3 linked regions of the Homo sapiens genome follow. The protein of the gene in region 2 purifies or fractionates together with the protein of the main gene of each other region. This does not show direct contact. Each region holds a gene or a part of one and is shown on either strand. Other genes may lie near its edges.

What was found.
Region 1: the proteins of EMCN (region 2) and PLEKHG3 purify together in Homo sapiens (affinity purification with mass spectrometry; one large-scale study listed by BioGRID and IntAct). This does not show direct contact.
Region 3: the proteins of EMCN (region 2) and NEXN purify together in Homo sapiens (affinity purification with mass spectrometry; one large-scale study listed by BioGRID and IntAct). This does not show direct contact.

What each region holds. Positions count from the first base shown.
Region 1 is NC_000014.9:64,702,969-64,707,240, forward strand, and holds the start of PLEKHG3 (pleckstrin homology domain-containing family G member 3), read left to right. Parts: upstream 1-1,455; 5' UTR 1,456-1,736; intron 1,737-4,272. UniProt on the Homo sapiens protein: Plays a role in controlling cell polarity and cell motility by selectively binding newly polymerized actin and activating RAC1 and CDC42 to enhance local actin polymerization.
Region 2 is NC_000004.12:100,420,314-100,424,031, forward strand, and holds part of EMCN (endomucin isoform 1 precursor), read right to left. Parts: intron 3,092-3,718; coding exon 2,999-3,091; intron 2,768-2,998; coding exon 2,708-2,767; intron 1,126-2,707; exon of another isoform or gene 1,065-1,125; coding exon 969-1,064; intron 1-968. UniProt on the Homo sapiens protein: Endothelial sialomucin, also called endomucin or mucin-like sialoglycoprotein, which interferes with the assembly of focal adhesion complexes and inhibits interaction between cells and the extracellular matrix.
Region 3 is NC_000001.11:77,887,178-77,891,423, reverse strand, and holds the start of NEXN (nexilin), read right to left. Parts: upstream 2,801-4,246; 5' UTR 2,665-2,800; exon of another isoform or gene 2,156-2,664; intron 1,957-2,155; exon of another isoform or gene 1,885-1,956; intron 1-1,884. UniProt on the Homo sapiens protein: Involved in regulating cell migration through association with the actin cytoskeleton. Has an essential role in the maintenance of Z line and sarcomere integrity.

The sequences.
Region 1 (4,272 bases), on a different chromosome or scaffold from region 2:
AGAAAGCATAAACAAAAAAAGGTGAAAGCCTGAGGTTGGAAGGGGTGACCACAAGTCCTGGAAGGCCAGAAGGGGGACTTGTCACTTCTCCCCTGGCCGGCGGGGTCTAGCGGAGCCCCAACTAAGTTGATCTATTTCCGAGCCCCTCTTCTGCAATCTCTGCTCTCACCTTCACGGTCCGCGAGTCTGGGGCTCTGCAAGCCTCCAACACACCCTCCCTCCCTAAGGAATGTGGGCCCCGCTTTCTGGGCCTGCCAGACCGAGCGCCTACCGCTTCCTCCGCAGGCAGGAGCCGGGACGCTGCCTTCACCCCACCCTCCGCCAGGATCCAGTTTCAAAGTCACCTGAAAGCCATTTCCTTCCGCGCCTGCCCCGCCTCTCCCCTCCCAGTAGATCACCTGGAGCTTGCATTTGCCCAGAGCAGCATTTTGGGGCGGGCGCTTGTTTTGTTTTAAATGATACCTCTAGAAATCGTTTGCTGTACACCTGGATAACAAATATACCCCGTGGTTCTAATATCAGCGTCCTATTCCTCCTCCCAAGGAACTAGTGATAGCGCCTAACCAGTGGGCGTTGTTCCTCTTCCGGAGCCCCACTCTGGGCTTCCCTCCTCCGGGCTTGTTGTTCTTCAGGATCTTTACTGATGAATTATTATGGGTTTTTGGATTTATGCTCTTGCTCAAAATGTATTGAATGTCTCTGTCCCCCATCCTCACCCCTTGCCCCCCAGTTTCCAGGTGTGTACCTTTCCATGCATACACGGTCATATACAGAGACATAAAGACAAACGGTTCTCTTTGTTTTATAAAAACGGGTCCTCTATCATCCAGGTTTCTGTGTTTTATTTTTCCTATTTAACAGTTCCTTGTGGAGTTGCCTTCACGTTGTCTCCTTTATCTCTTTCCCGTCAGCTTCTCAGAGGTCTGCATTTACCACTGTAAAGCGTCACAGGGACCGAGTTATGGTGAGGAATTCAAGACATGCCTTTCTGACTTGGAAAAGCGGACACGGCCGGCTCTGGTAGGATTAGGATCCCCAGATCGATCCCGGCTGGTCACTCACTTGGGAAAGCCCTCAGCCCCCTTCGCAGGGCCCGGTGTTCCCTGTCCATACAAGGGGTACGTTCTGGCAGTCCATGCTGTCTCGGGAGGCGGTGATAGCAGGTCTGTGACACCAGGGTGACCCCACCACGTGCGTCTTGGTATCCTAGAGCATCTAGGCTGCCCGGGGGTGCGCGCTCATCACCCTGCGGGCGTTAATCGTTAACCGCGCCCAGGCCTCGCCGCCGCCGCAGCCTTACCCCGGCTCTGGCTCGCCGCGCCGCGAAGGTTGCCCCGGCCCCCGCAGAGCCGCCAATTGCTGGACTGCAGCCGCGAGCTGGAGTCTCCACCCACAGGAAAAATTCCTGGCCCGCCCCTCCCTCGCTCCCTCGCTCCCTCGCTCCCTCGCTCCCTCGCTCCCTCGCTCCCTCGCTCCCTCCTGCCCTCCCGCTGCAGCTCCGGCTCCGCTCGACTTCCTGCCGGGCGCTGGCAAGCCGCGCGCTGCCTGGGGTCTCCGGGGGCCGCGCTTGCAGCTGGCCGAGTCCGGGCCAGCTGAGGGGCTGGCGGTGGGCGGGAGCGGTCGGCGGCCTCAGCCCCTTCAGAGAGCGACTTTCAAACTCGCGCCCGCGTCGCGGCAGCACCTGGGCAGCCCCGCACGCCGTGCGCGTCCCGAGCCCGCGGGGCAGCTACCGCTCGGTGAGTGTCCCCTGATTCTCCTCTCTCCCCTCTTATCTCCCTGCATTAGGCTGAGCGGCGGTGCCGGCAGTCACGCTGGGGCCCCAGTCCCTTCGCGGCCCCCGTGCCAGCCCCCTGCGGGGTGAGGACCGGGGCGACCGAGGAGGGCCTGGAACTGTGTTGGCTGCTTCCCGGGCCACCCTGCCGCAGAGTGCGCGAGCGCAGGAGGGTCGTATGGGGAGACTTTTTCTGTCTTTTTTTCCCTCCACTCCGGAAACAAAAGGGGCAAATGCGCCGGGCGGCTCCAGAGAGGCTCAGTTTGAAATCCAGGAAGCCCGCGAGGCCGCGCGCGCCCGAGGGCTGGTGTTTGGCTGGAGCTGTGGGCCTGGCGGGTGGACCCTTCTGCGCGAGGACCCGAGCCTCGGCTCCTGCCAGCCCCGGAGGCGCCTGCAGCCTGTTCCGGGTTGGCGCCGCACGGTGCTCGCTGTTGGGAATCTCGGCTACCTGTCCGGCAGGGAGGAGAGTGGGGGCCAGAAGCGGGGAGCGGAAAGCCCGGCCACCAGCTGCCTCGACCTCGTCCACTCCTGAAGTCGGTTTGGTTCTTCGCACCCCTACACCCAGCCCTTTGGTTTGGAAAGCCAGTATAAGGCGTGCAAGCTTAAATTTTTAAGGCGTTAAATAGCTACTTTGACTCTTCGGGGCGCCTTTGGAACACAAAAGGAAGAACGGAGGGGAGAATGGAATGGTTGGAGGCTGGAGAGGTGTGGCTTTTGGGGAGGGTGTTGTTAGAGGCCGCGAAAGAGTTTGATCCTCGAGGTCACTCGCTAATCTGTTGGCATATGTAGGTGCCTGTCCCCTGCTCTGGGGGCCCCAGCAGGAGACCCACACTGCGTTCACCTTACGGGGAACCCTGGAGTGGGGGTTCCCAGAGTCTCCCCAGCCGTGCCTCTGCACGCAGCCCAGTCACATGGCCCTTGCTCAAGAAATAATAAGCAGGGAGGGCAATGACAGTCCGGAGCGGGGGAGGGCCTCCCCGTTGAGCACATCGGCCACCTCGCCTTCAGCAGTGTGGTTTTCCGGGCCATCCTTTGTTGGACAAGGATGGGATCCTGAGTGATTAAACCCCAGCTGTTCCCCAGGAGGAAACTAGGGAGTGAGAACCAAAAGTGTACATTTATCTCTCTGTTATACATCTCTCCCCTGTGGTTCCGGGCTGGCCCCCTGGATGCAATGGCCTCACTTCTCCTTTCGACACCTGCTGTCCTCCACTCCCTTCCTGGAAGATAGGACAACCCATTAGCTCCCTGGGTAACTTGCCCTGGGGATGGGGCAGGAAGTTGGGGGAAGAGGTACCCAGAGGCCAAGTCCTAGCTGCTGAGGGAGTGATTTGTTGAAGAGCTGCTTTGGGGGCTTTTCTACTGCCTTTTATTAGAAGTGGCATGGCAGGGGAAGTGGAAAGAGCACTGGCCTGATAGTCCAGCACGGGTTTATGCCTGAGTTTTAGACCTGGCTCTTCTGCATAGCATGGAAGATTGGTAGAGTTGAAGAGTGCGAGTCACTTGGGCTGGGGGGCCCCTTGGATTAGCCTACTTCATTTACTCGTGAAGGCAGCAGAGCCCAGAGGGGTGAGGTGATTTCAGCCTTAGACCCTATTGGCCAAGTAGAAACCAGAGGTCAGATGTCCTCATTGTCTGATCTGTGTTTTCTCCAACATGATCTGGCCAATTCACTTATCTTTTCTGACTCAGTTTCCACATAAATAAAGTGGGATTACTTGCCTGCTCTTCCTCATAGGAGCTGTGGTGAGGATCAAAGGAAGCCTCATTTGTGGAAAGTGCTCCATAAACTCCTGTTAAAACTAAAGGGCTCACAGTGGCTCGGGAGGGAGTCTCCCAAGGGTTTTACAATTTGCTGGCTATGTCCCACGTGTGTGCCACAAGGAGACGTTAGATACCAGGAGCCATTGTTGGATGTTTAAAACACCCTGGTCTTAATATCTCAGCCCCAGAGTAAACATTTGCCTTACCAAATCCGCAGCTATCCCACGGTCACTGTTTACGCTGGAAGAGGCCAAAGGCCACGGCCTGCGGGATGACCAGGGCTGGAGGGGGAAGGCTCCTCTGTTGCAGAGGTATGCCTTGCCCGTTCTCTTCTCCCAGCTCCCAGAACCTTGTGAAGGCTCCAGCTGTAAGCCAGGGGTGCTGCCACAAGCCCAGGCCGCCCTGGCCTTGGAGGGTTAAAAGTGAAGCCCTCTGGCTATTCTCTGTTGTGTTGGGGGTTGCAGGGACTCTGGGAGGGTGTTGCTTTTGCAGCTGCACTGAGGGCTGTCTTCAGCTCCTCATCTGTGCCCCCTCCCCCATCTCAGGCCGCCCCTCTGGCCCAGGCCACTGCTCTGTCCCGCCTCTCTGGCCAGCTGCAAGTCCACAGGCCTTTGTTCCGTGGCTGCAAACCCGCCCTACTCCATCCTCCCTCCTCAGCAGAAGCCCTCCAGCGGGGGCCCTGGCAGCTGGAAATCACAACTGCCAGGAGGAAGGGGCTACTGGAGCCCCCAGCGGAC
Region 2 (3,718 bases):
CTTGAAGAAGTGGTATGTTATAAAAAGATACAGTAAATTTGTGTTTGAGTTGAGTCCTAATGGGTAAGTTGGAGATTAGGTATGTTATGAAAGGTAAGAGGTGGGCTGGATATTCCAGAAGGAATAGTATGGATGAGGGCATGGATACATGCTACTACATTATACGACCAGGGCTGGGCTGTGAAGTGGAAAGATAGTTTGCAATTACGGTAACATGACAGCTGAGCCATGGGAGTTGAAGGGGTATTTAGGTGAAGGTTGAGTAAAGAAGAGGCAAATTTCTTGGAACAGAAAAAAGACTGAGTAAAGACTAAAAGAAATCAGAATTTAGTTAACAATAATTTATCAGTATTAGTTCACTAATTGTGACAAACATACCATCAGATCTTAATAAGGGAATAAGGGAAACTAGGTATGGTGACTCACTGTACTATCTTTGCAACTTCCCTGTAACTCTAAGTCTACTCTAAAATAGAAAGTTTATTTTTAAAAAGGATAAAAAATATAACATGGTCTTGGAAGATACTTTCGTTGGGTGTGTCTCCCAGGAGGGAAATTAGTCACGGGACATTTTTTGAGATTATGGGCCCCTGAGCTGAATTCTTAGCAATCTCCCTCTTTATTTTCTGTTACATAGAAATGGAGTTAATCTTTACCATAGACAAGTTATGTCATTGTTATGCCCTCTTTACTATCATATTCCCCTGACCACCCATAAAATTTGGGCTATTTTATTAAAAAGAATTTCCCTATATTTGATAATATCTACTCATAGTATTTAGTTCCCACTCTGCAGTTCACTAGCATTCAGTGGGTGTCTGTGCCCTTCGTCCTTTGTTTCTGTGATCAGGAAATATGACATTTCATTTCTTTCTATAACTTTTCTCTCCCTTTAAGAATTTAAAATCAAGTTTAAACTGAGCATTCATTCTTCTTTCAGGAAAACAAAACAAAACACTGTTACCTACCCGGATCTGCCTTCCAGCACATTCGGTACAAACCCACCAGAACAAATACTGAAAGTGTTATTACAATCAAAGCAATAACCACCGGCAAAATAATACCTAAAAAGAATTGGAGACATTGTCAATTAGAGTGGCTACTGAATTTCACAGCGATAGTTTGGTAAGTGAGCCAAAGCATGAGTACTTCCTTTCTTCTTTAAATATCATTCTATTAAAAACATATTTTAGGCAAAGATTCCTCTGATTCATGGGGTTTGCTCTAGTTGTCATCTTTGACATAACCACTTGATGTCAGTCTTGTAACCTTTCTGAAACAAAATTCCAACCTTAAGAGAGAGTGCCCCCATCTTCCTGGAGACTGAAGAAGTGGGGAGATGGGAGACTGGAGAAGCAGAAGATGTACTCTAGATTATAATTAAATCCTCATTCACTCATTACATTTTTTAGTACTTTATAATGAAGTTACCAAAATATATATAACCCAACGGGGATTGCTTTAGTCCTAATGCTGGCTTTCTAAAACACTCACAAATTTCTTTCTATAATAATACCTTAAAACTAGAAAAGGCATAAAATAATGTAAGTAGATACCACAGTGAAGATGATTCTTGAAAATGAACATGATTCAAGAGAGATGTGTATGTGTGTCTGTTTGGGGGAGTGATGTTGCTGCAGTAACTTAGGGTGAGTTTTTCATATTTGTATTAAGAGGAAGAGTATTGCCTGCCTTCCTTCCTTCCTTCCTTCCTTCTTTCCTTCTTTTCTGATGGTTATTTCCAAGGTTAAAAGTACAGTGATAAAAGCAAGAGAGCTGTCATAGACACACAACTAAAGGAAATTAAGATGACTATTAGTTTAGCATATTTGCTTTCATATGTACTCCTTATATATTTATCAGGGGTGAGACTTACTCTCCAATTCATCTGTAGGATGGTTTACACTTCCATTGTCAGAGTTAAATATTTGTTTTAAGTAAGTTCTGCTGATTTCATAATAGACCTTAGGTGAAATCATTATTGCCTCCCAAATGAAGATGCCGTGAATCAGCAGGTCAGTAATTTCTATGATGACTTATTTAATGGAATGGGTTTAACTAAACTTAATAGAGCCTTTTATAATAACAGTTTTGAATATTGTCTTTTTATTCTTAATTACTAAGGAAGTTATTTAATATTCTGTATTCAGTCTTAGCACACACATAAATGTTATATGACATATATAGGTTTTAGTTAAAATGGAACATTTCTTAAAGGCCGTTTTTAATGTTCTATGAAGGCAAACAATTCATTTTTTGATATAATTTATTTATTATTTTAATTATTTACTTGACAAAAATAAAATATATTCAGGGTATACAACCTGATAATTTGGAAATAATTCACTTTTATGGGGACCTCTACCTGTGCATTTTGACTTATCTGAAACTAGTCCCATCGAGTCATCCTTGGCCCTTGATCGTAATTGTTAAACACTAAACTAAGAAAAAAATTGCCAAACTGTGCTTTTTTTCCTCTTCTGTTTTCTTTCTTTCTTTCTTTCTTTTCTTTTTTTTTTTTTTTGTCATTAAGACTCACTTGTGGGAAATTTTCAGAGCAGGCAGCAGTTAGATGGGATTGTAATGGGATTGCAGGCTCAGTAAAGTTGAGAAAAGGCTGCCCATAATCTGATTCCTCTCCTTTACTGGTCACATTCAAACATTCTGCATATCTACTGCCATGAATGAAGGCATTGCTGTTACTCACTGGAATAAGACCGGCTGGTTGCTGAAGTGCTTGCATTTTTTCCACCCTCAGTGCCTATTACTTTAAGAAAGAAAAAAACAAGTCACTTTTGGTTAATGTGTGCCAATTCTTGCAGTCCTCCCTCCACCCTCATTTAAGGAAACAGCCATGATTTGTAGGTATGATGCTGCAAGTGCAAAAGATTCAGTCTCATTCTGAAGGAGCTCTGTTTTGTGAGTCAAGATTGTTAGGGTTTCAGTCAAGAAAGGGTCAGGTAGAGCAGATTTCCACTCAGGCACACAGATATCATACCTTGAGACTGTGAGGTGTTTTCTGGAATTGTAACTGGTATTGAGGTTAATGTACCAGTTTTAGAAGGTGATGCATCTGGTTGTAGAACACTACCTGTATGAAAATTACAAATGCAGAATCAGGCTATGGTATTAAGCCTTCATATGGGATTTCTTTGCAGATTCAAACAGTTTGCTTTTCTGAAGATCTGTGAAAACTATTTATTGTCAAATAGTAGGATAAATGCAATCATAACACTAAACCATAAGTTCATCCATTCCTCCTGGAAAGATAATTAAATTTAGAATCACAAAGCCTGAGTATCAGTTTTACATCTTCAGGAACTCGCCAAGAAAACTTCAGTAAGTTTTTTAGCGTAGATTACAGCCTGTATAACCTACTGCATAAGATTCTTGTGGGATGTAAATCTATGCAAAAGCATTTTTCAAATTTCAGATATTATAACTTTGGGTGATAGTGTTTTTTTTCTATCACACATAGTTAAAATGATCATAACTGCACAGGACGTCAGATTTTATGTATTTATCAGTGATTGAAGAGAAAAAAATTGCAGTTGAGGCTTTGGTTAGAAGAATTGAGGAAAAATCAAAGAAGACTCCTTCATTTTCATCCCTAAAGTTCAGCAGCTGGTTTTATTATGTGCCTTTTCTAGAGTAATGCTACTTGACTGTTTTTTTTCACTAGCATCCGTGCTCTTTTTTTTCCAAGGAAAATATAAAT
Region 3 (4,246 bases), on a different chromosome or scaffold from region 2:
TTACTGGATGGCAGACACTGCATGGGATGCTTTCACATGTTGTTTTATTGAGATATGTCAATGCAAAAAGAAAGAGTTCTATGCATGGGAAAAAGACTTAAAGGAAATACATCAAAATCCTAACAGTAAGAGTGTCAGATTACAAGAGCCCCTTTTTCCATTCTCCATAATTTTTAACCATAAATATAACATGGTGTATTAACATTATAATACAAATTAAACTAAAATTTAAGGTGGATTTCTGGGTACAAATCCACCCACCCTGGAGTATAGAAAGTAAACTACTATAAATTAAGCCAAACTATACACTGAATATTTAAATAATAAAGGAAAATGTAGCCATTTCAAATGTATATAATATGTAACTATGCAATTATAAACCCAGAAAGAGAACATGAAAGAAACTACACAGGTGATATGGACCGCAGATTGATTAAATAAGAACAGAAATATGTGAAATTGTTAAGAATGTTATAAATCATTTTCTCTCCAAATTATAAACTACCAAGATGTTCTGTGTGTGTGTGGCCTACATAACTATAAAATAACAGTCCTCTCTTCTATAAAAACGTTTAGACTTTTACCTGTCTGTTACATACTTTTCCACATTCACTGCATTATTTTCTTTCTTTTAGGTGTGCACAACTCTCATATTTAAATAATCCCCCTTTTTTTTGTCTTTTAGGGTATTTCAAAGATAACAGGTATTTTTTTTAATAAATGAAGTATGTCATTATAGGCCGCTCAGATTCTAAGCAATCTGAATCCCCAATTAATGTCTTCCAAATATGCATATTTAGTTTTTATTCTGCTCAAAAATGAAACCCTAACCTAAATACTTCAAGTGAAATTTCAGGGGAAAAAGACTGTTCAAAAACCTAGATAATGCATTCCTTTGTTGATGCTAAATATAGTCATCTCAAGATGACATACATTTTGACAATGATCAGCCTTACATGTCAAATTTTCAAAAATAGCACAAATTCCATTTTAAGGTGAGCAGGAACAATTGCTATTCATTACATTTCAATTGAAAATGGATTTTAAAATATGAATCTTTTATTAAAACTGGATTACATTGTAACTATGATGAGGAAAACTGGATTTAAAATAATTTTGTTGTGGTTTTAGCTTAGAATTCTTTAAGGGAATTGCAGATAAACTACATAATTGCATGCATTTTTCTTTAAATTGTTCCTCAGAAGCATTAGTCAAAATATAAAATATCTGCAAAAATACGGTGTTAATTGTAAGGAAGAAGAAACTTAAACAGCTACATTGGTTAATCAAAGTTTACTTATACAAATTATACCTCCCCCCAAAAAACCTTTCTCTCATTTGATTAATTATGCATTTTTTCTTAACAATACCCCAAACTCAAAAGAATTTGAGACAAAGTTTTCTAACTGCAGCAGTTTAACCTGTAAAGGATAATGTTTAGCGGGGGAAATTATGTGGTCCACTCAATAACGTGTGACTAAGATATAAATAACGTGTGACTAAGATATGAACTTAAGTATAAATACTTAAGTTTATTTAATCACATTACCTAAGACATAGTTATGTTGTGACTCGAAGGCCAATGGGCCGCTGCTACATGAATTCATTAACAAAATTTAACGATGAATGATATTCCCGTTGTTTTGGTCAGGGAACTAATTTCTTTATTATGGCTTCTTTTCTCTACCTGTGTCTTCACCAAGGACATTTTGTTAGGACATATCCTTATGCTATTTTTACCTTGTTATCTCTCTGCCAACTTGGTTCACGTTGTGCTTTAATAACTATAAAATGAGCATCTCTAAGTCACTGCAGTAACCAACTATAACCTCTCAACTTCGTCATTTTCTTTATAAATGCCAATGCTAATGCATTTGTAGAACGTTTCACAATTTACAAACAGCTGGAATGGTTTGGCGTTTTCAAAAGCATATAGGCAAAGGGAGTTCTCAAGAGGTGACTACATTCTTCACTCACTTAAACTACGTAAACTTCGTAAACTTCCAGCCCTAGTTGCTCAACCCCCAGCATCCCACCTCGGGCAGAATCACGAAAAAAAAAAAAAAAAGGGTTGGAGACAGGAGTGGGGGGATATGCGGGGGTGTGGGGGGGGAGTAATAGGCTGTTAAATCATATTTCTCCCCATCTTCCACAGAGACCGATCAGAAAGGATTTCTTAACTGGCACTGCTGGCAGAGACGGAGACCGCGGCTGGGGCAAGTGGTGGGGGACGGCACTGAACTTCCCTAAGGACCCCAAGGGTTCAGCCGAGGGATCGGCACCCACTCCGCTCACAGAGGGCTCCCTCCCTACAGTAGGGAACGCACCCGAAACTCAGCCGACAAGGCGCAGGGGAGCAGGGCAAAGACATTGCAACCAGAAGCCCAAGGCCGGCCGACACTTTCAGACCCTGGGGCAGCCCCTGGTAGGCACCCCGCCGAGCCCGCAGGATGCGGCTCCAAGGCAGGGTTCGCCCGGGCCGGGGCCAGCGCGGACCACAGCTGTATGGCGCCCGGCGCCCTCCGGAGCTGCAGCGGAGCACGGCCAGAAGCCGCAGACCCCGAGCGCCTCTCTGCAGCCGCCGTTCCCGCCCCCGCCCCCACCAGGGGACCCGACACCTCCGTCTCCACTCCCCCCAGCCCACGTTCCCCCAACTCTTCTCACCCTGCAGGAGCCGGTGACCGGCGAAGGTACTTCTTTCCGCGTGGAGGGACTGTGCGCGTCCCGCCTGGCTGTGGGTAGGGGTCTGGGAGCTCTGGCCGCTAACACTTCTGCTCCAGCCGCTGGGAGTCCTCTGGCTGCCGCTGCCGCCGCCGCCGCCGCCGTCTCCAGCAGCAAGTTTCCATAAAAGTCCTGGTGTGCAGCCTGTTCCCGCATTCCAGGCGGGCCCAGCGCCGGCTGCAGCTGTTCCAAAACACAAGGCCAGTTCCCCCAACCCCCCACCTCCGCCGTTATCACCCGGAGTGGGGGTGGAGAGTTGAGGAGAAAAGCAGGGGAGGGGGACCGTGGCTGCCAACTTTCCGCCAGAATTTGTCTGTCTCCCGGCCCTAGGTGCGCGAGCTGACCCCCTAACTTTGGGCCTGCCTCCACCTCCAGCCAGGCCTGGGGAAGGAAGGCTGCCTCCGCCATGGGAAAGGAATGAGGCTGAAATGGGCTTCATTACCGGGCTGAAGCTGGCTCCCCCTACCCGCAACCAGTTTGCTCTGGGGCCCACTTCTCTCAGCTACTCTACCCGTCCTAGTTTCCAGTCAAGAAGCCAAGCCACTACATATCTTCTACTACCCTAAGCATTGACCTTTGGCCAAGTTTTCCTTTATTACAAAGAGCGTGGGGCAGCAATCCGGGAACACTTCATCTGTCTATTGCTCCCCTGTTCTTAGCTCCAGTCTTTAACTCTAAAAGGAGAGTTAAAAAAGAAGAAGAAGAAGAAGAAGAAGAAGAAGAAGAAGAAGAAGAAGAAGAAGAAGAAGAAGAAGAAGAAGAAGAAGAAGAAGAAGAAGAAGAAGAAGAAAGTTGAAGGCAGAGGAGGAGGAGGAGAAGAAAAGAAGGAATATATTTATATAAGTACAAATATCTTTATATTCCACCTTTTTCTTAATTGAAGGCAAACCATATCTGGTCTTTCTAAAGCTTCATAAAGGCATCTTTGACTATTAGACACCCACAGACCTTTTTCAACTTGGACCGCCAGCCTGTCAAACCCATCAGACAATACCATATTAAAACCCGAAATGCACACTCGGAGTATTTTTGGTGGACGAGATCTTTAATTCTTCACTGCACTTGAAAAAAAAATCGAAATGACATCCAGATAAAGAATAAAGGTAACCACTTCCACCTTCAGGCCCTAAGCAGACAGCGGTGCTCAGGTTATATTTCAGGGATGTTGAAAAGGCCTTCTGGGCTGGGCGCGGTGGCTCATGCCTGTGATCCCCGCACTTTGGGAGGCCGAGGCGGGTGGATCACTTGAGGTCAGGAATTCAAGACCAGCCTGACCAACATGGCAAAAGGCCGTCTTTACTAAAAATACAAAAAATTAGCCTAGTGTGGAGGCACACACCTGTAATCTGAGTTACTCAGGAGGCTGAGGCAGGAGAATCACTTGAAGCCAGGAGGCGGAGGTTGCAGTGAGCAGAGATCATCCCACTGCACTCCAGTCTGGGTGACAAAATGAGACTCTGTCTCCAAAAAAAAAAAAAAAGGCCGGGCGCGGTGGCTCCTGCCTGTAATCCCAGCACTTTGGGAG